Linked DNA regions of Homo sapiens. The protein of the gene in region 1 interacts with the protein of each later gene in a pairwise test. Each region holds a gene or a part of one and is shown in the gene's direction. Other genes may lie near its edges.

What was found.
Region 2: the proteins of SYNC (region 1) and TRAF3IP1 interact in a two-hybrid assay, tested with the Homo sapiens proteins (one large-scale study listed by IntAct).
Region 3: the proteins of SYNC (region 1) and ITSN1 interact in a two-hybrid assay, tested with the Homo sapiens proteins (one large-scale study listed by BioGRID and IntAct).
Region 4: the proteins of SYNC (region 1) and ATP1A3 interact in binary tests that used the Homo sapiens proteins (3 or more experiments, as listed by UniProt).

What each region holds. Positions count from the first base shown.
Region 1 is NC_000001.11:32,691,790-32,697,277, reverse strand, and holds part of SYNC (syncoilin), read left to right. Parts: intron 1-1,233; coding exon 1,234-2,413; intron 2,414-5,488.
Region 2 is NC_000002.12:238,342,656-238,348,143, forward strand, and holds part of TRAF3IP1 (TRAF3-interacting protein 1), read left to right. Parts: intron 1-1,145; exon of another isoform or gene 1,146-1,399; coding exon of another isoform or gene 1,400-1,526; intron 1,527-1,841; coding exon 1,842-1,943; intron 1,944-4,799; coding exon 4,800-4,820; intron 4,821-5,488.
Region 3 is NC_000021.9:33,896,225-33,901,073, forward strand, and holds the end of ITSN1 (intersectin-1), read left to right. Parts: 3' UTR 1-3,637; downstream 3,638-4,849. UniProt on the Homo sapiens protein: Adapter protein that provides a link between the endocytic membrane traffic and the actin assembly machinery. Acts as a guanine nucleotide exchange factor (GEF) for CDC42, and thereby stimulates actin nucleation mediated by WASL and the ARP2/3 complex.
Region 4 is NC_000019.10:41,970,231-41,975,718, reverse strand, and holds part of ATP1A3 (sodium/potassium-transporting ATPase subunit alpha-3), read left to right. Parts: coding exon 1-90; intron 91-5,176; coding exon 5,177-5,331; intron 5,332-5,410; coding exon 5,411-5,488. UniProt on the Homo sapiens protein: This is the catalytic component of the active enzyme, which catalyzes the hydrolysis of ATP coupled with the exchange of sodium and potassium ions across the plasma membrane.

The sequences.
Region 1 (5,488 bases):
TAGAGATGGGGTTTCTCCATGTTGGTCAGGCTGGTCTTGAACTCCCGACCTCAGGTGATCCGCCTGATTCGGCCTCCCAAAGTGCTGAGATTACAGGTGTGAGCCACCACGCCTGGCCGACCATGGTTCTCTTTAAGTGTTTAGATAACTTACACAGAAAAGAAGGTAGAAATATCTGATCCTAGAAGGAAGAATCAGGTAAATCCAGTGGCTAAAAGTTACCAGGAATTGCTGGGCATGGTGGCTCAATGCCTGTAATCCCAACACTTTGGGAGGCTGAAGAGGGCGGATCACTTGAGGTCAGGAGTTTGAGACCAGCCTGGCCAACATGGTAAAACCCCATCTCTACTAAAAATACAAAAATCAGCTGAGTGTGATGGCACGTGTCTGTAGTCCCACCTACCTGGGAGGTGGAGGCTGAAATGGCACCACTGCACTCCAGCCTGGGTGACAGAGCAAGACTCCATCTCAAAGAAAAAAAAAAGTTATAAGGAAGGTTTTACCTCAACATTATAATTTTATTAGAACTGGGCTGGGCGCAGTGGCTCATGCCTATAATCCCAGCACTTTGGGAGGCCGAGGCGGGCAGATCATGAGGTCAGGAGTTTGAGAACAGCCTGACTAACATGGTGAAACCCCATCTCCACTAAAAATACAAAAATTAGCCGGGCGTGGTGGTATGTGTGCCTATAATCCCAGCTGCTCAGGAGGCTGAGGCAGGAGAATCACTTGAACCTGGGAGGTGGAGGCTGCAGTGAGCCAAGATCGCACCACTGCATTCCAGCCTGGCAACAGAGCAAGACTCCGTCTCAAAAAAAAAAGGCGTGGTGGTGCTACTTGGGAGGCTGAGGCAAGAGAATCGCATGAACTGGGGGACAGAGGTTGCAGTGAGCCGACATCACGCTATTGCACTCCAGCCTCGGCAATACAGCGGGACTCCATCTCAAAAAAAAAAAATTATTATAATTGTGGAACAAACAGTGGTGCCTCAGGTATGTCGAGTCCTTGGAGCTGCATAAGCAGAGACCATATGGTGATGTCGCTGGGATGCTGGCAGGGGATCTACACCGTGGTTGGGTGTGTGGAGGGGTGGATTGACAGAGTGGAGGGAGCAGACGAATGGCTGCTGACATCTAAGAACCTGAGGTAGTCTAGGCCCATGGCTGCTGGCTCCAGAATTGCACCATCCTGGGATTGTGGCTGCCCTTTCACTTTCAATCATTTCTTTTGCAGGAAAACAAGAGTAGAGGCCAATTCTCCTCTTCCAAAGAACTCTGGATCCCTAAATGAGGCAGAAGCCTTGAACCCAGAAGTTACTCTATCTTCAGAGGGGTCCTTAAACCTCGAAGACATTCTCTACCTGGAGGACACAGGTGACCTTGATGAGACACTCTATGTGCAAGAGACTGAGAAGGCAGAGGAGGCCCTGTATATTGAGGAGGCCATGCAGCCAGATGAGGCTCTGCATGTGGAGGAGCCTGGGAATCCAGAGGAGACAGTGTGTGTGGAGGAAACCACGGAGCCAGATCGGATACAGTTTGTGGAGGGGCCCGTGGAGCCAGGAAAGCCCACAAGCCCAGAGCACGTTGTTTATGAGGGAGAGACAGTCACAAGGGCGGAGAAATCTAACCCTGAGGAGAGCCTCAGAGCCGAGCAGAGCCCCAGCATGGAGGAGAACCTGAGCATAGAGGACCTGGAATTGCTAGAGGGGCGTTTCCAGCAGTGTGTCCAAGCTGTGGCCCAGCTGGAAGAGGAGAGGGATCAGCTCATCCATGAGCTTGTATTGCTCCGGGAACCAGCCCTGCAGGAGGTACAGCAAGTCCATCAAGACATCCTGGCTGCCTACAAGCTCCATGCCCAAGCAGAGCTGGAGAGAGATGGCCTAAGGGAGGAGATCCGGCTGGTCAAGCAGAAGCTTTTCAAAGTGACAAAGGAATGTGTGGCCTACCAATACCAGCTGGAGTGCCGCCAGCAGGACGTGGCTCAGTTTGCCGATTTCCGGGAAGTGCTGACTACAAGGGCAACCCAGCTCTCAGAGGAACTGGCCCAGCTCCGGGATGCCTATCAGAAGCAGAAGGAGCAGCTGCGGCAACAACTAGAAGCCCCTCCAAGCCAGAGGGATGGGCACTTTCTCCAGGAAAGCCGGCGACTCTCTGCCCAGTTTGAAAATCTCATGGCAGAGAGCCGCCAGGACCTGGAGGAGGAGTATGAGCCTCAGTTCCTGCGGCTCCTAGAGAGGAAAGAAGCTGGGACCAAAGCTCTGCAGAGAACCCAGGCTGAGATCCAGGAAATGAAGGAGGCTCTGAGACCCCTGCAAGCAGAGGCCCGGCAGCTCCGCCTGCAAAACAGGAACCTGGAGGACCAGATCGCACTTGTGAGGCAAAAACGAGATGAAGAGGTGCAGCAGTACAGGGTAGGCCCATTGGGCATGAAAAGAACTGAGGTCTTTTAACCTGGGGAAAGAGTGGCCAGAGTCCAAGGTCTTTGGGGCTGAAAGATAGTGTCACATGTAGGAAGAAAAATTTGTTCTTTGGGGCCACGCAATTTTTTCTCCATTCTTCATTCATTCAGGCCCATGCTAGGGACTAGAAGTTATCTGCACTGTTTTTTGTTTTTTTTTTTTTGAGATGGAGTCTCGCTCTGTCGCCCAGGCTAGAGTGCAGTGGTGCGATCTCAGCTCACTACAAGCTCTGCCTCCTGGGTTCATGCCATTCTCCTGCCTCAGCCTTCTGAGTAGCTGGGACTACAGGTGCTCACCACCATGCCCGGCTATTTTTTTGTATTTTTAGTAGAGTCGGGGTTTCACTGTTGTTAACCAGGATGGTCTGGATCTCCTGACCTCGTGATCCGCCTGCCTTGGCCTCCCAAAGTGCTGGGATTACAGGTGTGAGCCACCGCGCCCGGCCTGCACTCTGTTTTTTTTGCGACAGGGTCTTGCTGTCACTTAGGCTGGTGCAGTGGCATGATCACAGCTAACTGCAGCCTCGACCTCTCAGGTTCAAGCGATCCTCCCACCTCAGCCTCTTGAGTAGCTGGGACCACAACTGTGCACCAACATGCCCAGCTAATTTTTTCTTTTTTGAGACAGGTGCAATCTTGAGGGCTCACTGCACCTCAAACCTCTTGGGCTCAAGCGATCCTCCTGCCTTAGCCCCCAAGCAGCTGGGACTACAAGTGTGTGCCACCATACCTGGCTAATTTTTTGTAGAGACAGGGTTTCACCACGTGGCCCAGGCTGGATTTGAACTCCTGAGCTCAAGCTATCCGCCTGCCTTGGCCTCCCAAAGAGCTAGGATTATAGGTGTGAGCCACCGCAGCCGGCCAATTTTTGTATTTTTTGTAGACAGGGTTTTGCCATGTTGCCCAGGCTGGTCTTGAAATCCTGGGCTCAAGTACTTTTAATGGCAAAAGCTGCAATTAATTTTGCACCAACCTTAATAGAATCCTCTCATCTTCACTTTCCTTTTATGTGCATTTGTCCCCATCTCTCTTGCATTCAAGTTATTTCTGATTAAGTGTGAGCCAGTTCTAATCCCTTTTTAGAACAGAGTGGGATATAAATACTAAGTGAATAAACAATTACGTAGTCCCTCCTAGACTGTGAACTTTCAGAAGGTAGGGAATACATTTTACTTATTGTTGTATTACTCTCTGCTACTCAAGGCTCAGAGCACATGTGCTGCTGGGCACTAATGAGAAGACTGTAGTGTGGTGCTCTAAGCAGTACTTTAATCTTTTGAAACACTGATTCCTTTGGATAAACTTAGAAATCTATGTCTTCCCAGAGATTGTGATATGCCCTTAAGGGAACAAGTTTCCCTGTTGAAATGGCTGCATTCACTTCACTGAAGATTTTGTCAAGCTTTCTGTAGTTTGTATTATGAAAACACTCTGTCTGGGAGCGGTGGCTCACGCCTGTAATCCCAGCACTTTGGTTGGGAGGCTGAGGTGGGTGGATCACAAGGTCAGTAGTTTGAGACAAGTATAGCCAATATGGTGAAACCCCGTCTCTACTAAAAAGACAAAAATTAGGGGGGCATGGTGGCACATGCCTGTAGTCCCAGCTACTTGGGAGGCTGAGGCAGGAGAATCGCTTGAACCCGGGAGGCGGAGGTTGCAGTGAGCTGAGATTGCACCACTGCACTCTAGCCTGGGTGACAGAGTGAGACTCCATCTCAAAAACAAACAAAAACAAACAAACAAAAAAAAAACACTGTGGTTTTTGGGGTCATAATACTGAATGTTTTTTATTTTTATCTTTATTTATTTATTTTTGAGACAGAGTCTTGCTCTTTCACCCAGGCTGGAGTGCACTGAACCAATCTCGGCTCACTGCAAACTCCACCTCCCGGGTTCAAGCAATTCTCATTTCAGCCTCCTGAGTTGCTGGGACTACAGGTGCCCGCCACTGCACCCAGCTAATTTTTTGTATTTTAGTAGAGATGGGGTTTCACCATGTTGCCCAGGGTGGTCTCAAACTCCTGAGCTTAGGCAGTCCACCCGCCTCAGCCTCCCAGTTATTTTTACAGAGTCTCGCTCTGTCACACAGGCTGGAGTGCAGTGGAGTGCAGTGGCATGATCTCAGCTCACTGCAACCTCTGCCTCCTGGGTTCAAGCAATCCTCCTGCCTCAGTCTCCCAAGTTGCTGGGATTGCAGACCTGTGCCACCATGCCCAGCTAATTTGGGTATTTTAGTAGAGATGGGGTTTCACCATGTTGGTCAGGCTGGTCTCGAACACCTGACCTCAGGTGATCCACCGGCCTCAGCCTCCCAGTGTTGGGATTACAGGCGTAAGCCACCACACCCAGAAGTAATACTGAATGTTTTTAAACTCTTCATATTCCCCTTACCCTATTTTTTAAAAAATTGGTTCACAGTCTAGTGAAAAGTCATTTATTTAGCATCAATACTATCCTTAACAGCCAATACTCAGACAGACATTACATTAATAGTTGTATCTCAGAGAAGAAAGTAATAGGTGATTTATGAGAGGTGCAGGTAAAAGGGCTGTGGGATAGATGATGATGATGATGATGATTATTATTTTTTGAGACGGAGTCTGTCACTCTTGCCCAGGCTGGAGTGCAGTGGCGCTCAGCTCACTGCAAGCTCTGCCTCCCGGGTTCGCGCCATTGTCCTGCCTCAGCCTCCCGAGTAGCTGGGATTGCAGGCGCCCGCCACCGCACCAGGCTAATTTTTTGCATTTTTAATAGAGACGGGGTTTCACCGTGTTAGCCAGGATGGTCTCCATCTCCTGATCTTGTGATCCGCCCGCCTCGCCTCTCAAAGTGCTGGGATTACAGGCATGAGCCACTGCGCCCGGCCGGGATAGATTATTTTTAGGCGCTGGTTAAATCAGAGAACTCTTCATGAAAAAAGAGGTGGAATTTGAGCTAGGTATGAAAGCATAGGGAGAATCTAGACCAGTGCTGCCCAACAGAAATATAATGCAAGTCACATAAATAATTACAAATTTTCTAATAGCCA
Region 2 (5,488 bases), on another chromosome or scaffold:
CATCTACAACCGCCAAACTTATGTTTATTTTTAGATTTTTTTTTGTTAAGAACTTAATATTTCATGTTTATTCTCTGGTTACCCTGAGTAAAATATAAATAACTGTTTGAATCAGACTATTTAAGTCAGTATCATTTTCACAGATTGATAAAAATGTCTTTGCAAAATTATGTGTCATCTATTTTATGTAGTTCTATTACATTATAAATAAAACAGTTATATGATAGTTAATGTCAGGTTGATTCTGATGTAAGCTGTTTTGAATAGTTTTAAGAATTATAAGATTGTGTTTCAGGAAAGGGAACATTTTACAATTTTATTTTTGTCTCTCAGTTTCTTTTTAGAGTGGTAGGTCCTTTGACTGAAGCTAGTTTTCCAGCTCTGGGTCCTGCTGTAATATAGAACCTATTCCTCTAGCCCCTCATCTGGGCCCCCTATTTTTTTTTTTTTGAGACAGAGTCTGGCTCTGTCACCAGGCTGGAGTGCAGTGGCACGATCTCGCTCACTGCAACCTCTGCTTCCCGGGTCCAAGAGATTCTCCTGCCTTAGCCTCCCGAGTGGCTGGGACTACAGGCATGTGCCACCACACCCGGCTAATTTTTCTATTTTTAGTAGAGATGGGGTTTCACCATGTTGGCCAGGATGGTCTCGCTCTCTTGAGCTCATGATCCACCGGCCTCAGCCTCCCAAAGTGCTGGGATTATAGGCGTGAGCCACCACACCTGGCTCCTACCCTTTTTTTTTCAGACATGATCTCGCTCTTACATGCAGGCTGGAGAGTGGTGGCATGATCATGGCTCACTGCAGCCTCGACCTCCTGGGCTCACGTGATTCTCTTGCCTCAGCCTCCTGGGTAGCTGGGACTACAGGCACCTGCCACCATGCCTAGCTAATTTTTGTAGATATGAGGTTTCGCTATGTTGCCCAGGCTGGTGCCTGCCTTGGCCTCCTAAAGTGTTGAGACTTCAGGCATGAGCCACTGTGCTTGGCCTTTTTTTTTTTTTTTTTTTTCCCCGAGATAGGGTCTTACTCTTTGCCCTGGGCTGGAGTGCAGTGGCGTGATCACAGCTTATTGCAGCCTAAACTCCTGGACTCAAGTGATCCTACCATCTCAGCCTCCTGAGTAGCTGGGACTACGGGTGTGTGTAACCATGCTTGGCTAGCTTTTTAAATTTTATATTTTTTTGTGTAGACGAGTTCTCTCTGTGTTACCTAGGTTGTCTTTACTCCTGGGTTCAAGTGATCCTCCCACCTAGGCCTCCCAAAATGCGGGGATTATAGGTGTGAGCCACTGTGCCCAGCCTGTTTTTTTTTTCACAGCAAAAATATTTTCTCAGGTATTTGATATTTTTTCTATCTTCATAAACTTTGGAACATCAGTCAGTAATTAGTAGACAATATGTGGAAGTTTTCAATATGGCCAGGACTGTGCACTGTGTCCAAAATATTTTTCTTTTCTTCCTGCATTCCTGAAACAGCCGCCTACTTGCAGCCTCTCAGCTGCTGGGTCTGGCTCTACTGGGGAGGTGAGTGGAGACTGGCAGTGTCAGGTAGCTCCAGAAATGGGGGGCGGGGGCAGTCTGCTCCTCCTGGCCTGAGTAGACCAAGGATCCACTCATAGTCTGGGGTGTCCTTTCCCTTTCACCCCAGAGCCGCCCATGGGGGAGGAACATTCTAGATGCATGTTTTCTAAAAGCTGCCTTTGGTCAGTCCTTTGTCAGTCCTAACTTGCAGTGTGGGAAAACATAGATAAGTAAGTGTGCTCTATGTTAATGAAGCCGCTGATCACCGGCCCTTTGGTGTACAGTCTTAATGACTAATTTTAAACTGTTTTATGTCAGGAACAAAAGAAGCTAATATTAACTCAACTAGTATTTCAGATGATAATTCAGCTAGTCTGCGGTGTGAGAATATTCAGCCCAACCCCACAGAGAAGCAGAAAGGTAAGAATGGTCCAGTTTCGCCCTTTCCTGGCGAGAGCAGAGTGAGCCCTCCAGAACCTTCTTCTCAAAGGGCCGCAGCCCAGAGCCCGAGGTTTTCCTCTTGGGTCTGAACGTGGCAAGTGATTCACAGTGATTCACTTCTGCCTTTTTGCATAAACTAGAATCGAACATGGTGGTTTCTTGATAGCATGGGACCCACTCGTGTGCTCCCCCGTGCTCTGTAAGTGAGAGGAGGTGGCATGTTTCATCACTTGGGGGGTGTCATGAGTGGTCCCTGAAAAGTTTCGGGGTCACTACTTGGAGAGCCCCACCAGTCAAGAGGTGTACCCCCCAGACTTCATGGTCACAGTGCTGTGGCCACCATGATTTTTCTGTCTGTCATTTTCTTTGAGTGTTGAATTATACCTCAGTGGGATTTTACTTTCACCATAAATTTTCTCAGCCTTTAAAAAAACTTTGGTAAAATAGCCATTCAATGTTTGTGTTTTGAGGCCTTGGAGCTCCTAACAGGCCTGCAAGGGTACCAGTGCCCAGGTAACCAAGGCTTGTGCAGGTGGCAGCGGCAGGGTGGGGTGTGGCCAGGGGAGGGCTGATGTTTGTTGATTTGTTCAAACAGAAAATTATCTGTTGAAGGCCTACTGCATGTCAGCCCTGAGGCTGGGAGCGCATGAGCCAGTGAAGTCAGGCTGGCCTCCTGCCTTCCTGGTGCAGATGAGGCTCGAAGATCAACCGAAATCGTTTGATGGGGTGGCAGTCTGGGACGGGAGGGGCCTTGGTTGGTGAGGGTGGCCCAGAAAGCCTGCAGGGCAGAAGGGGCTGTATAAACCAAGATCCCGGCTGGGATGCGACTGCAGCAGGGCTGGCTCAGCCCAGAGGAAGGGCCAGAGCCAGGTCCCTGTGCCAGCTTATGGAGTTTAGCCTTTATTGGAAGAGCAGCGGGAGGCTAATTATATCTTTAGGAGGAGCAGTATAATGATATTTAGATTTTAAAGAGTGGCCATGTTAATTAGGGAGGGTTAAAGATTGTGCAGAGAAGAGAGAGAGGCCTGGACTGTGGAGGCGCCCTGGGAGGGGAGAAGTGGTAGGATTCCAGGGCTGCTGGCACGTGCTGGGGGAGCTGGCCTGGAGCGTAGAGGGAAGGCCCAGGCTAGAGAGGAGCTGTGAGAGTTGCTGGCGCTGGGTGATGGCAGGAGCCTGGGTGGGGACTGGGTCACCTAGGACGAGATTGTGAGTGCAGGAGCTGGCAGAGCACTGGCGCTGTGGAAGCACAGGCGTCGGGGAGGATGGTGTGGGCCATGTGGCAGGTGCCTTGGGTTCTGGGTAACGGGGACTGGAAGTATCCATTGAAAGGTAGAGAGTTCACTGTGCTGACTTTCCTTCTGGGTATCGGCCTTGTGGTTGAATAACTGCACCTCTCAGGCACCTTTTTGAGTGCTGTGTTAATCCAGGGTCTGTTCCTAACACCCTGGTGTTTTGAAGAAAGAGCCGGGGATTTGAAACTGTGTCTGCTGCCTGCCCCCAGGTCGCACGAGGACTCTCAGTGCTGGTTTCTGCTAAGCACACGCTCCAGGCCGCACAGCCATGAGGAAAAGATCTTCTGCCACCTGCTCTTGGTCCCCAGCAGTCCCATCCCAGGGTTGAGCTGAGTCCTCTGCCCCCATTGGCCCAAAGTGCTGGGGTCTCTGAAACTGCCCTTGTAGTGGCACTATCTGGAACCACATTCTCCAGCCCCCTGCTAACCACTGTGCCCTCCAGTCCCCTAGGCCCTGGTGGGTGCCAGGCTACCCCCTGTGCTGTGGCACTTTGTGGGGTGTGACCTCTGGAGGTTCTCAGGCCCATACTAATAGAGTCCTCTAGAGCCTCCCGGTTCCCCTTGATCCACAAGCTTGGCCCCCTCTCTCCCTGCCAGAGCCACCCTCTTAAGGCAGCATTTATGAGCTCGTGGCTGTTATGCTCACAGAAAGTCCTCCTGTGAATAAACGAGCTAGAGGTGTCTGTAGAGTGCTCCTCACTCTGCTCGGTGTGGACCCTCACAATAACCCAGGCTGATTTCTCGAGGCTGCATGAACTGTTCCTGTCTGAGGCGGGGCCGTGTTAAACGAGGCGCTGCATCAGGCCCTGCTGCCTCCTCTCTGCCGTATAGTGTGCTGGGCTGTCATGTGAATCCATGCGCTTTCTGCTCTTCTGCAAATGCGTTCGTGCATCTTAAGAGTGTGAAACAGAGATTTCCCACCTGTGGTTTTGAATCACCCCACCCCTGTGGTGCCACTGCTCATTTACTTTGACCGTTTAGGTCACATTTGTCCTCAAGACAACACTTGAAGAAAAAGGATCCTGGGTGAAGGTGCAGAGGTGGGCCTCTGTTGAGCTGGAAGATTTTCTTCTGCTTTCAGGAGCTGATGGAAAAATGCTTACCAATCATGTCTATAAGATGGGCTGTTGTTGACTGTCTCCCAGTCTTTGGAACGGCCCGGGATTTGGTTGGCCGGGTTCAGACTGTTGCATCGTTCCCTCACATTTGGATGCACTTTTTCTGTGGCTCTGGCTTTGTCGATTCTTGTCTCATGAACTTGTTAACTTCCTCTCCGATGTGCTTTCTCCACATCCCTGTGTCCTGTTTCTATTTAGTACCATTTTATGATGCACAGTTTGTTTGCTCTTTGTTTTTCTATCTTTGAAAATAAAACAAAATGGCAATAGGGACATTAGAAAAGCGGCTATGAGGAAATGATCTTTTTTTCTTAGCAGACATCCAAAATTATGTACAGTGTGTTTTTTCTCCAATTCTGTTCTCATCATTTAATGTATTGAGGTTGACTACACGAAAGCTAATTTTCTGATGTGCTTTTTCTTTAGGTGACTCCACCAGTGATGCAGGTGAGGAATGGCCTTAGATACCTGTGTGTCATATCAATTGTATGCATGTGTGTGAATGTGAATGTGGACTCTCAGATTCATGCTTTATAAAGTGCATTAGTGAAAGTAACTTATTTTATGGAAAAAGATCATAACTACCCTAATGTATTTATTTATTTATTTATTTTTTGAGATGGAGTTTCACTCTTGTTGCCCAGGCTGGAGTGCAATGGCATGATCTCGGTTCACCGCAACCTCTGCCTCCCGGGTTCAAGCAATTCTCCTGCCTCAGCCTCCTGAGTAGCTGGGATTACAGGCATGCACCACCACGCCCGGCTAATTTTGTATTTTTAGTAGAGACGGGGTTTCTCCATGTTGGTCAAGCTGGTCTCGAACTCCTGACCTCAGGTGATCCACCTGCCTCGGCCTCCCAAAGTTCTGGGATTACAGGTGTGAGTTACTGCGCCTGGCCAACTACCCTAATTTAATTTGAAATTTAATTTATATGTTTTAAGTTTGAAAACAATACATTTCAGGATTTTTTTCCAGAATATAAAGTATATTTCTAATATTCAAATTCTGACTATTTTCTGAAGTGTTAATTCCTTTTACTTTAAATAGTGGAGTAAACTTGTCTTAATAGTTTAGGCCTTGTTATTTACTGATTAATTCTTTTTATCAAAATGAAG
Region 3 (4,849 bases), on another chromosome or scaffold:
TGGCAGGAGCTCTGGGCTCCCAGTTCAGGATGGGCCACAGGGCGTCAAGCAGCTGTGAGCCTTTACCATTGAGCTCACTGCTTGGAAATAAAACCCTTCCTCTGGGCCTTGGGCATCCACTGGGAGCTTTTCTCCCCTTTCCTGGGAGGACAGCAAGCCTTTTCCAACCTTCTGCCTTCAAAGAGAAGCAGGGTCATAGAAGTGCTCAGTGTCCCTTCCCCAGTGGCTGGACACTTGCTCCTCCAGCCTTCACCCCCTGGAGAGAAGGGGAGTCTGCGGAGCCAGTGCCTCCCTGCCCAGCTGGGCCACACGATCTGGTCTGCGGGTGTCTGGGAGGAACCTGCTTCGGAGAGGCTGCGACCTCCCAGCTAGACTCTCCCCTTAGGATCCCATGTATGGGGATGGTAGGAGAGAAAAGATCCCTCTGTGTAAGTAGCCTCAAGTTCTAGAAGACCATGGCCCCGGGAGGCAGCTGACCATGAAGCTGGGCTTCCTGTTGTTGCTTTCTTTCACGAGCTTTTACTTTTCCTGGGCTGGACGCTCCAAAATGTTTGCAGTTCCATTTGCTTTTTGCAAGTAGGTCCCCATCTCCATATACATTGAGCAATAATCCTCACTATGTTTCCTGATTCTGTCTGGGATTATATTTGCTAAGTAAAAATGTTGACAGAAATTGCAAACTCATCTCACCTGGATTTGATTGAGTCACCTTGAATGACATAACAAATTATGGCTTTGTTTTCATGCGTCATGCAATCTTCCGGACTACGGGAAGTTCTGCAAGTGTTCTCCAGGGGCATTTCATTAATAGCGTGTCAGCATTAGTTTTAATGAATGAACATTTGAGGTACATTCTATAAATCAATATCCTTAAAATGTCATCTGCTAAACATTCACTGTGACAGAAAGTAGATATTTTAGCAAGATCTATGTTAATGCTACTTAATTTTAGACATGCATTTAAAGCCTACATGGCCAATAGCCCAAGTATCTTTGAACTGTGAAATCAACCTCAGATCTCATCTGCTGTAGCCCCGCAAGCCGGAGTCTGTGCCCTCCATGACCCTTCTTATCCCTTGGTGGCCCTGCATAGATAGGGGAGTTGGCCCCTGCCCACCCCGTGTTGTATTGCCTTAGCTCCATCAGCTTTGTACCCTCACACGTATAGGTGGTGAACTTATGTGTAAATACATGTGTACAGATGAGAAACTGCAACAAAAATGTCCTGTGGATGATAATCAGCTCAGTTTCCGGTTTTCTACATTCTGTGCTGTTTCCAGCTAAGAAAAAGGCGAACTCCCACTATATAAAGGGAAAAGGTTGTATTCATTTCATGTTCCTCATGAAATCTCTGCTGTATGTTTATGGAATGGCCATGACTAAATGTATATATGGTATGTAAGAGGCCATGCTGTTAAATGTTGCATAAACTAACACAGATTCTGTAGTCAAAAATATTTAACTTGTTATTGTAAAATGTGATTTGTCATTGAGAGATTATTTTTCTGTATGTATATGAGAGTATTTTAGGAATCTAATTTAAGTGCATAAAACTATAGAAAAAAATTTAAAACCTATTCCAAGAGTAGAAAATGCTTAATGAGATTACTTGGGTTCAACTCAACTAAATTTCTTATATTAAAAAAAAATTCCAAGTTGTATATGTTAGAAATCAAATGAGTCATTTTTTTTCCTGCAGGAAATATGATAAATTTCAGTGTAATGGATGGTGGCGTGATCAAATGAAAAGTATCCTGTAGCTATGACCTCGCATGGGACCTTGGTGTTGCATTAAAAATGGATTTTTGCAGATCACATATCTGAGAGGGTACTTGTGTCAGGAAGGATGAGAGGATAGGGAGCCTGTTTTTCATCAGATCCATGTGCCACGCAGGCTTCCTTGGGTTCTAGTGGATTTGTTAGGGATCTGGGGCTGACGCAGCTATCCCACTAGAGAGGCCACTCTCTGACTTCCAGGTCGCCCTTTCTACTTCTGTATCTGGATTGATTCAGTTTATCCCTAATTAGCGTTTGCGTTTTCCATGAAATTTCCTGATGCATCCTCACTGTCTTCAACTGTTGCATAGCCAGGTGGGTGGATGGATGGTTTAGGGTTTCTGAGTTAAGCCGTTTTGGGGCAGGCTTCTGGATGCCCATGTTTCCATGGAGACCCCAGGGGGAAGATGCCTTCCTCCCGTCTGCATTCCCAGAAAAGGATCAGAAGTCCAGGCTGCTTCTGGGGCACAGACTTTCTGTACTTGGCCACCAGAAGTGCCCCTTAGGCCACCTAAGGAGGATTCTGTGAAACTCAATGTCTAAACCCCTGAGAAAGGCATTCAGAAATGATTTCAGGAGGGGGCAACCCCAGGAGTCCAGCCTCCCCTGGCAGCCTGGAAATACTGCAGTAACAAAAAGAGCTGGTTTCTGGTGATCTGAATGCATTGTGTTTGGGGGTGACACCGCTGGTGGAAGGTTGAGGGCCTGTGGTCTGAAAAGACATCTGAAGAATGTGTTAGGTTTTCAACATTTCTTTGAACAGGCTGCGTGCATCTTAATGCTGTCAACCAGCAACTGGAGCCCCTTTTTTGAGAGGCCCGAACCAGTAAAGCTGCTGACTTCAGGAGTATGGGAAGCTGTGATTTCTGGAAGCTTCCTGGAATCTATTTAGGTGCATGAATAATCTGCAAATCACTTAGAGGCACTGTCCATGTGGTCCATAACTGGCTTTATTCCCAAAGATGGAGCTGTTCAGAGATTTCTTTGTTCAGGCGCAGCCTTGGAAGGCCACCTAAGGCCTGCCAGCAGAGGAGATGAGCTCTGGTCTACCAACCCCAAACAGGCCCTGACTCTCCTTCCTTAGAACGATGCCCTCTGGCTGGGGTGGCAAGAGGGCTGTGAGTGGAAACAAGTCAGCCAGTCAACTGTCCCTTGGGCCTTGGTTGTTTCAAAAAAGTCTGGGGACAAGAAAAGCTAGAACATGGGGCCCTCCCTTCCCAGGAGTGCTAGCGAACCCTCCCAGATAGCCTTTGCCTGTTTGGAAAAGAATGTAATCCATCAGAACGTGAGCTCCTTGTGCTTCCAGTGACAAGCGGGCCACAGTGCTGGTGGCATGTTGCTTCCCTCACAGCCCTGCCCAGGGGTAGGACCAGGCCCGCCCCTTGATGGATGTGCTGTTGATTGTAATATACTTCTGTTGCCAAATAATGGTACTGTTTAATTTTCCATAAAAGAGAGACTATATTGTCTGATATGTAATGTTAATGGAATTCTAAGAATTACTAGACACTATTATAAATTGTAGACTTACGTATTTGTCTAAAGGTTTGATGAAGCAGGGCCAAAACATTGTTTCTTCTTTTTTGTTTGAAAGAAGCTGAGGTTTGTTTTTGCTGTTTGAGTGTTCCTTTGGCAACTTATTATGTGTGAAATGTTAAATTTTACCGATTAAGATGATGGTAACTGAGACCTTTCTTTAAACCAGTAGCAACATCAGTACAAATTGCTCTTCCTGTGTATCTTGAACCTAAAAAGAACAATCTCTTCAAAAACAAAAACAAAAACAAAAAACAACTCTTTGGTCATTTTGACCTGTGTGGTTTAAATTCAAATAGTTCATGAATAAAAGGAGAAAAGCCAATCTGTTATAGTGGATTATTTTGGGTTCTTTCTGCTTCACTCTTTTCTGAGAGCACAGGAAGCTAACAGCCCTGCAAATGGTGTCTCTTCCTCTTCCCACAGATAAGATTGTAGCTGTGCAAGGAAAATTGTGCAGAAATAAACCTAGAAAACAAAACCAACCAACAACCCTTTCAGCTGTCCTGCGGCTTCAGATAAATGTTAGCTAACACCAAGCAGAAATAGATTTCTGTGTACGAAGTCTTTGTGAGAACAGGAGAAGTTTTGTGTTGTACAGCATAAGAAATTCTGAGGGTGGGGTTGAGAGGGCGGTGCAAAAAGCTGATTTTCTTATAAAGACATTCAGAAGGGTCGCTGAATTTCCAGGAAGAAGTTTCTAACACACGTAACTCCACGTGTTCAGCACTTGGGTGATCTATAATTCTGCGTTCCATAAAACCCAACGCTGAATTGTATTAGGTTGTTTCCTCCTGTTCTGGTTTTAAGGCCATTCCTACCTATTTCATCACTGATTTAACTGACTATAAATAAGTCCTTTAAATTCTCTAGCTGGCTTGGACACTAGTTGAATTGTGACATAGCACATTTTTAAAAAGTTGACCCTACAGCAGTATGTCTTTGCCTTTTTAAAACTAGTATGCCCCATTTTTGAAGAACATAAAATCGTATGCCCTTTTCTTGGTTGTTATTTGAAGTTTTAAAAATAAGTTAAGGCTGGATGTGGTGGCTCACACCTGTAATCCCAGTGCTTTGGGAGGCTGAGGCAGGAGGATTGCTTGCATCCAGAAGTTCAAGACCAGCCTGAGCAACATAGTGAGACCTTGTCTTTACAAAAAATAAATCAGCCAGGCATGGTGGCACATGCTCATGGTCCCGGGTATTTGGGAGGCTGAGGCAGGAGGATCTCTTGAGTCCAGGAGGCCAAGGCTGCAGTGAGCCATGATTGTGCCACTGCACTCCAGTCTGGGTGACAGAGTGAGACCCTGTCTTAAAAATAAAAAGTTAAATGCCATTAAAAACAAATGCAATAATTAACTTTCCCAACTATACCTAGTTCTCTCCAAGTCTGATGAGGGCCCCCTCACACAGACCAGAGAGTGGATGGAATCACTAGTACAAAACATGTAATTATTACCTATTTAACCACGGTTAGTAGCCAGCATAATCAAGGCAATACTTTTTATTCTCAAATATTTAGTTTTTCTTCTTGTTA
Region 4 (5,488 bases), on another chromosome or scaffold:
GCATCGCTGGCTCTGACGTCTCCAAGCAGGCAGCTGACATGATCCTGCTGGACGACAACTTTGCCTCCATCGTCACAGGGGTGGAGGAGGGTGAGTTGGCCAGGGGTGGCCCTGGAGACCAGGGTCACTACCGGAGGCCTGAGACCAGCAAGGGGAACTGGCCAGGGCTGCAGGGGGATGTGTGGCAGAGACCACAGGCCCCCTGGCCCTGGAGGAGCCTGAGCCTGTCCTTTTCTGTCTTCCTCCCCTGTGGGGTCGGGAGCTCCCCTGGGCAGGACTGAGCTGACACACTTCAGGGTCCCTGCGTCATCCAGCCCAGGCCCCATCTGGTGGGTGAAGCTGACTTGGAGGCTTTTTAAAGATATTCTCAGCCAGGGGCGGCAGCCACGCCTGTAATCCCAGCACTTTGGAAGGCTGAAGCAGGCAGATCATGAGGTCAGAAGATCGAGACCATCCTGGCTAACATGGTGAAACCCCGTCTCTACTAAAAATACAAAAAATTAGCCGGGCATTGTGGCGGTTGCCTGTAGTCCCAGCTACTCGGGAGGCTGAGGCAGGAGAATTGCTTGAACCCAGGAGGTGGAGGTTGCAGTGAGCTGAGATTGCGCCACAGCACTCCAGCCTGGGGGACAGAGCGAGACTCCGTCTCAAAAAAAAAAAAAAATTCTCAAGCCCAACCAGGGGGAAGCCAGGGACCCTGGGGGATACCCCCTCTGCCAGCCTGGGCTGGGGGTCAAGGGAGCTTCCCAGAGTGGACAGGGATGGCTGAGCCAAGTCAGGGGCCATGCTGTGACGTCCACATAGACTAGTGCCAGGGAGTCGCAGGCAGAGGAACCGGTACACAGGCAAGGCGGTGTGAGGGGCTGGGTCTGAGGCTGGTGCTGCTGAGCCGACAGGCACCACCTCCTGACAGGCCCAGACAAGGCCACAGAAGGGTTGGTTCACATTCAGATTTATTTTGATCATCAAATTAATTCATGATAATCATAGACAAATGCAGAAAAGCATTCAGGAAAAAAGTAGAATCACCCGTAACCTCGCCATCCAGAAATAATCACGGTTCATGCCTTGGTGGATTTTCTTCCAATTTCTCTCTCCTATTTGAAATGTCTCTGGTGTAAAAAGTAGTTCATGGTAAAAGAGAATTCAAACGGCAAAGCCGAGCCCAGAGTAACAGATTAAATGTCCTCAGCCCTTGTCTCCTATATCCCAGAGGAAACCATGGTTAACACCTTCTTATCTCCCAAGAGACATCTTTTTTTGGGGGCTGGGGGCGGGGATAGAGTCTCAATCTGTCACCCAGGATGGAGTGCAGTGGCACAATCACGGCTAACTGCAGCCTCCACCTCCGGGACTTAATCGATCCTCCTGCCTCAGGCCCCTAAGTAGCTGAGACTACAGGTATGCACCATCACACCTGGCTGATTTTTAAGATTTTGTAGAGATGGGGTTTCGCCATGTTGCCCAGACTAGTCTTTCTTTTTTTTTGAGACAGAGTCTTGCTCTGTCACCCAGGCTGGAGTACAGGCATGCAATCTCGGCTTACTGTAGCCTCCACCTCCTGGGTTCAAGCAATTCTCCTGCTTCAGCCTCCCGAGTAGCTAGAATTACAGGTGCATGCCACCACACCAGGCTAATTTTTGTATTTTTAGTAGAGATGGGGTTTCACCATGTTAGCCAGGCTGGTCTTGATCTCCTGACCTGAAGTGATCCCCGCACCTTGGCCTCCCAAAGTGCTGGGATTGCAGGGGTGAGCCACCTCGCCCAGCGAGGTCTTCAACTCCTGGGCTCAAGCAATCCTCCCACCTTGGCCTCCCAATTTGCTGGGATTACAGGCATGAGCCACCACGCCTGGCCTCCCCAAGACATCTATGCATACACAGTACACACACTGTCTCAGATACAGCCGTCTGCTCCTTCCGAATCTTGTGCATCATGCTGGAAGCCTGGGAGGCAGCTGTGAGCAGAGCAGACACCATCCCTGTTCTCACAGGGCTGGAGAGACAGCCTTAAACAAGTTAACAGATATGTAATTACAAATTGTGATATATGCCCCGAAGAAAGCAGGCCGCTGTGATAGATAATAGTGAGGGTCCTGCCCAGATGGGGTGGACAGGGAAGGCCTCTCTGAAGTGAGGGAAGAAATACCTAACTTCCGTCAGGGGCCAGGCACGGGGGCTCACGCCTGTAATCCCAGCACTTTGGGAGACCAAGGCGGGAGGATCGCTTGAGCCCAGGAGTTCAAGACCTGCCTGTACAACAAATTAAGACCTCAAAGATCAAAAAATTTTAAAAATTAGCAGGGCGTGGTGTTGCACACCTGTAGTCTCAGAGACTTGGGGGGCTGAGGCAGGAGGATCACTTGAGCCTGGGTGGTCGAGGCTGCCATGAACCATGATGGTGCCACTGCACTCCAGCCTGGGATAGAGCGAGATCCGAGACCCTGTCTCAAACAAACAAACAAAATAACTTCCAACGGGGGCATTCCAGATATACCCAAAAGTAAAGCAAAGGCACAGTGGGCCCCTGCGCCTCCATCCCACCTGCAGCGGCAGTCAGCGCACGGCACACCTTGTTTCTTCCCCACCACCTGGAACACACACTGGATTATGCTGATGCACATTTGTCACCATTTCATCCATAAATAGTTTAGGATGAGAAACCCCTAGTTTGTGGAGAAGAGCACAATGCAGGGAACGAGAATATCAGGTGGGAGCGGCCCAGGCCCTTATTGCTATGCAAGAGACATCAAAGCAATCAAAGAAGCCACACCACAGGCAGCCTGCTTCACCTTCCCTTCCCTCCCTCCCTCCCTTCCTCCCTCCCTCCGTCCCTGCCTGCCTGCCTTCCTTCCTTCTTTCCTTCCTTCCTTCCTTCCTTCCTTCCTTCCTTCCTTCCTTCCTTCCTTCCTTCCCCTTCCTTCCTTCCTTCCCCCTCCCCTCCCCTCCCCTTTTTTTGATGGAGTCTTGCTCTGTTGCCAGGCTGGAGTGCAGTGGCGTGATGTTGGCTCACTGCAACCTCCACCTCCCAGCTTCAAGCGATTCTTCTGCCTCAGCTTCCCACATAGCTGGAACTACAGGCACACACCACCACTCCCAGCTAATTTTTTGTGTTTTAGTAGAGATGGGGTTTCACCATGTTGGCCAGGATAGTCTCGATCTCCTGACCTCGTGATCCACCCGCCTCAGCCTCCCAAAGTGCTGGGATTACAGGTGTTTGCCACCGTGCCCGCCTGTTCTTTCTTAATGATTGACCTCATTGTTCATGGGCTAATCTTTTTACTTATTTATTTATTTAGAGACAAGGTCTCACTCTGTTGCCCAGGCTGGAGCGCAGTGCTGCAATCATCAGTCACTGCAACCTCGACCTCCTCAAGTGATCCTCCCACCTCAGCCTCCCAAGTAGCTGCGACCACAGGCTCGAGCCACCGTGCCTGACTAATGTTTATTTTATTTTATTTTATTTTTTTGAGATGGAGTCTTGCTCTGTTGCCCAGGCTGGAGTGCAATGGCACAATTGCGGCTCACTGCAACGTCTGCCTCTGAGGTTCAAATGATTCTCCTGCCTCAGCCTCCCAAGTAGCTGGGGTTACAGGTGCCCACCACCACGCCCAGCTAATTTTTGTATTTTTAGTAGAGATGGGGTTTCATCATGTTGGCCAGGCTGGTCTTGAACTCTTGATCTCAGGCAATCCTCCTGCTTCGGTCTCCCAAAGTGTTGGGATTACAGGTGTGAGCCCCAGCGCCTGGCCTGGATTAATCTTTATTTTGTTTACTTTAGACAACCTGTACTGGTTGAATATTTATTGAGATATGGCATGCATACAGTGAGTTGGGCATATTATATCTCATTAAAATATTCAACCAGACAGGGTGTATAAATTTTTACACATGTACACAGCCATGCAACCACCAGACCCCAGTCAAGATAGAAAACCATTCCAGCCCCCCATTTAGGTTTTGTCTGCTCTCTTCCAGTCTATATCCCTCCTCCTAGACATAACCATTATCCTGACTTTTAGCCCAGAGACGGGTGCTGAGCCTGCTCCAGTTGGAGTTGGATGCTAAGAATGCTTTTGTGTCTGGCTCGTGTCACTCAGCACGGGATCCAAGGTCCAGCTGTGGAGTTGTGTCCGTAGCTCGCCCCTTCTTGCTGTGTAGTATTTGACTGCATGGATGTACCGTGGTTTATTCATCCCTCACCTGTTGATGGACATGGGGTTGACTCTGGCTTTTGGCTCTGATGAGTGGTGCTATGGTGAACATTCTCGTACTTGCTTTTCGCTGGGCATAAACAGTCCTCCTCTCTTTTGGGTATAAAACCTAGGAGTCGGATTACTCGGTCGGTGGGGTGGGGGATGTTTGATAGCAACTCCGAAACCATCTTCCAAAGTGGTTATTTCAAGAATGTTTCCACAAAGGCGATGTGGTTGGATGTTTATGTGGAAAGGTAGGTGGGTGAGGGGCCAGGTGTGGAGACTTATGCCTGTAATCCCAGCACTTCGGGAGGCTGAGATGGAATCACAGCCCAGAAATTAGACAAGCCTAGGAAAAGTGGTGAGACTCTGTCTCTACTAAAAATACAAAAATTAGCTGGACGTGGTGGCGCGTGACTGTAGTCTCAGCTACATGGGAGGCTGAGGCAGGAGGATCACTTGAGCCTGGGAGTCGAGGTTGCAGTGAGCCGTGATCATGCCACTGCACTGCAGCCTGGGCAACAGAGTGAGACCCTGTCCCAAAAAGAAAATAATGGTGGGTGGGCTGGGGGGTAGAAAAGGACGCTGGACAGGCCGGGCGCGGTGGCTCACGCCTGTAATCCCAGCACTTCAGGAGGCCGAGGAGGGCAGATCACGAGGTCAGGAGATTGAGACCATGCAGGCTAACACAGTGAAACCCCGTCTCTAATAAAAATACAAAAAAATTAGCCGGGCGTGGTGGCAGGTGCCTGTAGTGCCAGCTACTCGGGAGGCTGAGGCAGGAGAATGGCGTGAACCCGGGAGGCGGAGCCTGCAGTGAGCCGAGATCGCACCACTGCACTCCAGCCTGGGCAACACAGCGAGACTCTGTCTCAAAAAAAAAAAAAAAAAAAAAAAGGACGTTGGATGAGGGCAGAGGAGGGGCAGAGGGAGTGGGGCTCCCTGGCATGGGCGCCTGCTCTGAGCCTGCCTGTGCCACAGGCCGCCTGATCTTCGACAACCTAAAGAAGTCCATTGCCTACACCCTGACCAGCAATATCCCGGAGATCACGCCCTTCCTGCTGTTCATCATGGCCAACATCCCGCTGCCCCTGGGCACCATCACCATCCTCTGCATCGATCTGGGCACTGACATGGTGAGCCCTGGCAGCCACCCTTGGGGCCCAGGAGGGTGGAGTCCTCCCCTCTCCGGCTCACCCGGCCTCCTCCGCCTAGGTCCCTGCCATCTCACTGGCGTACGAGGCTGCCGAAAGCGACATCATGAAGAGACAGCCCAGGAACCCGCGGACGGAC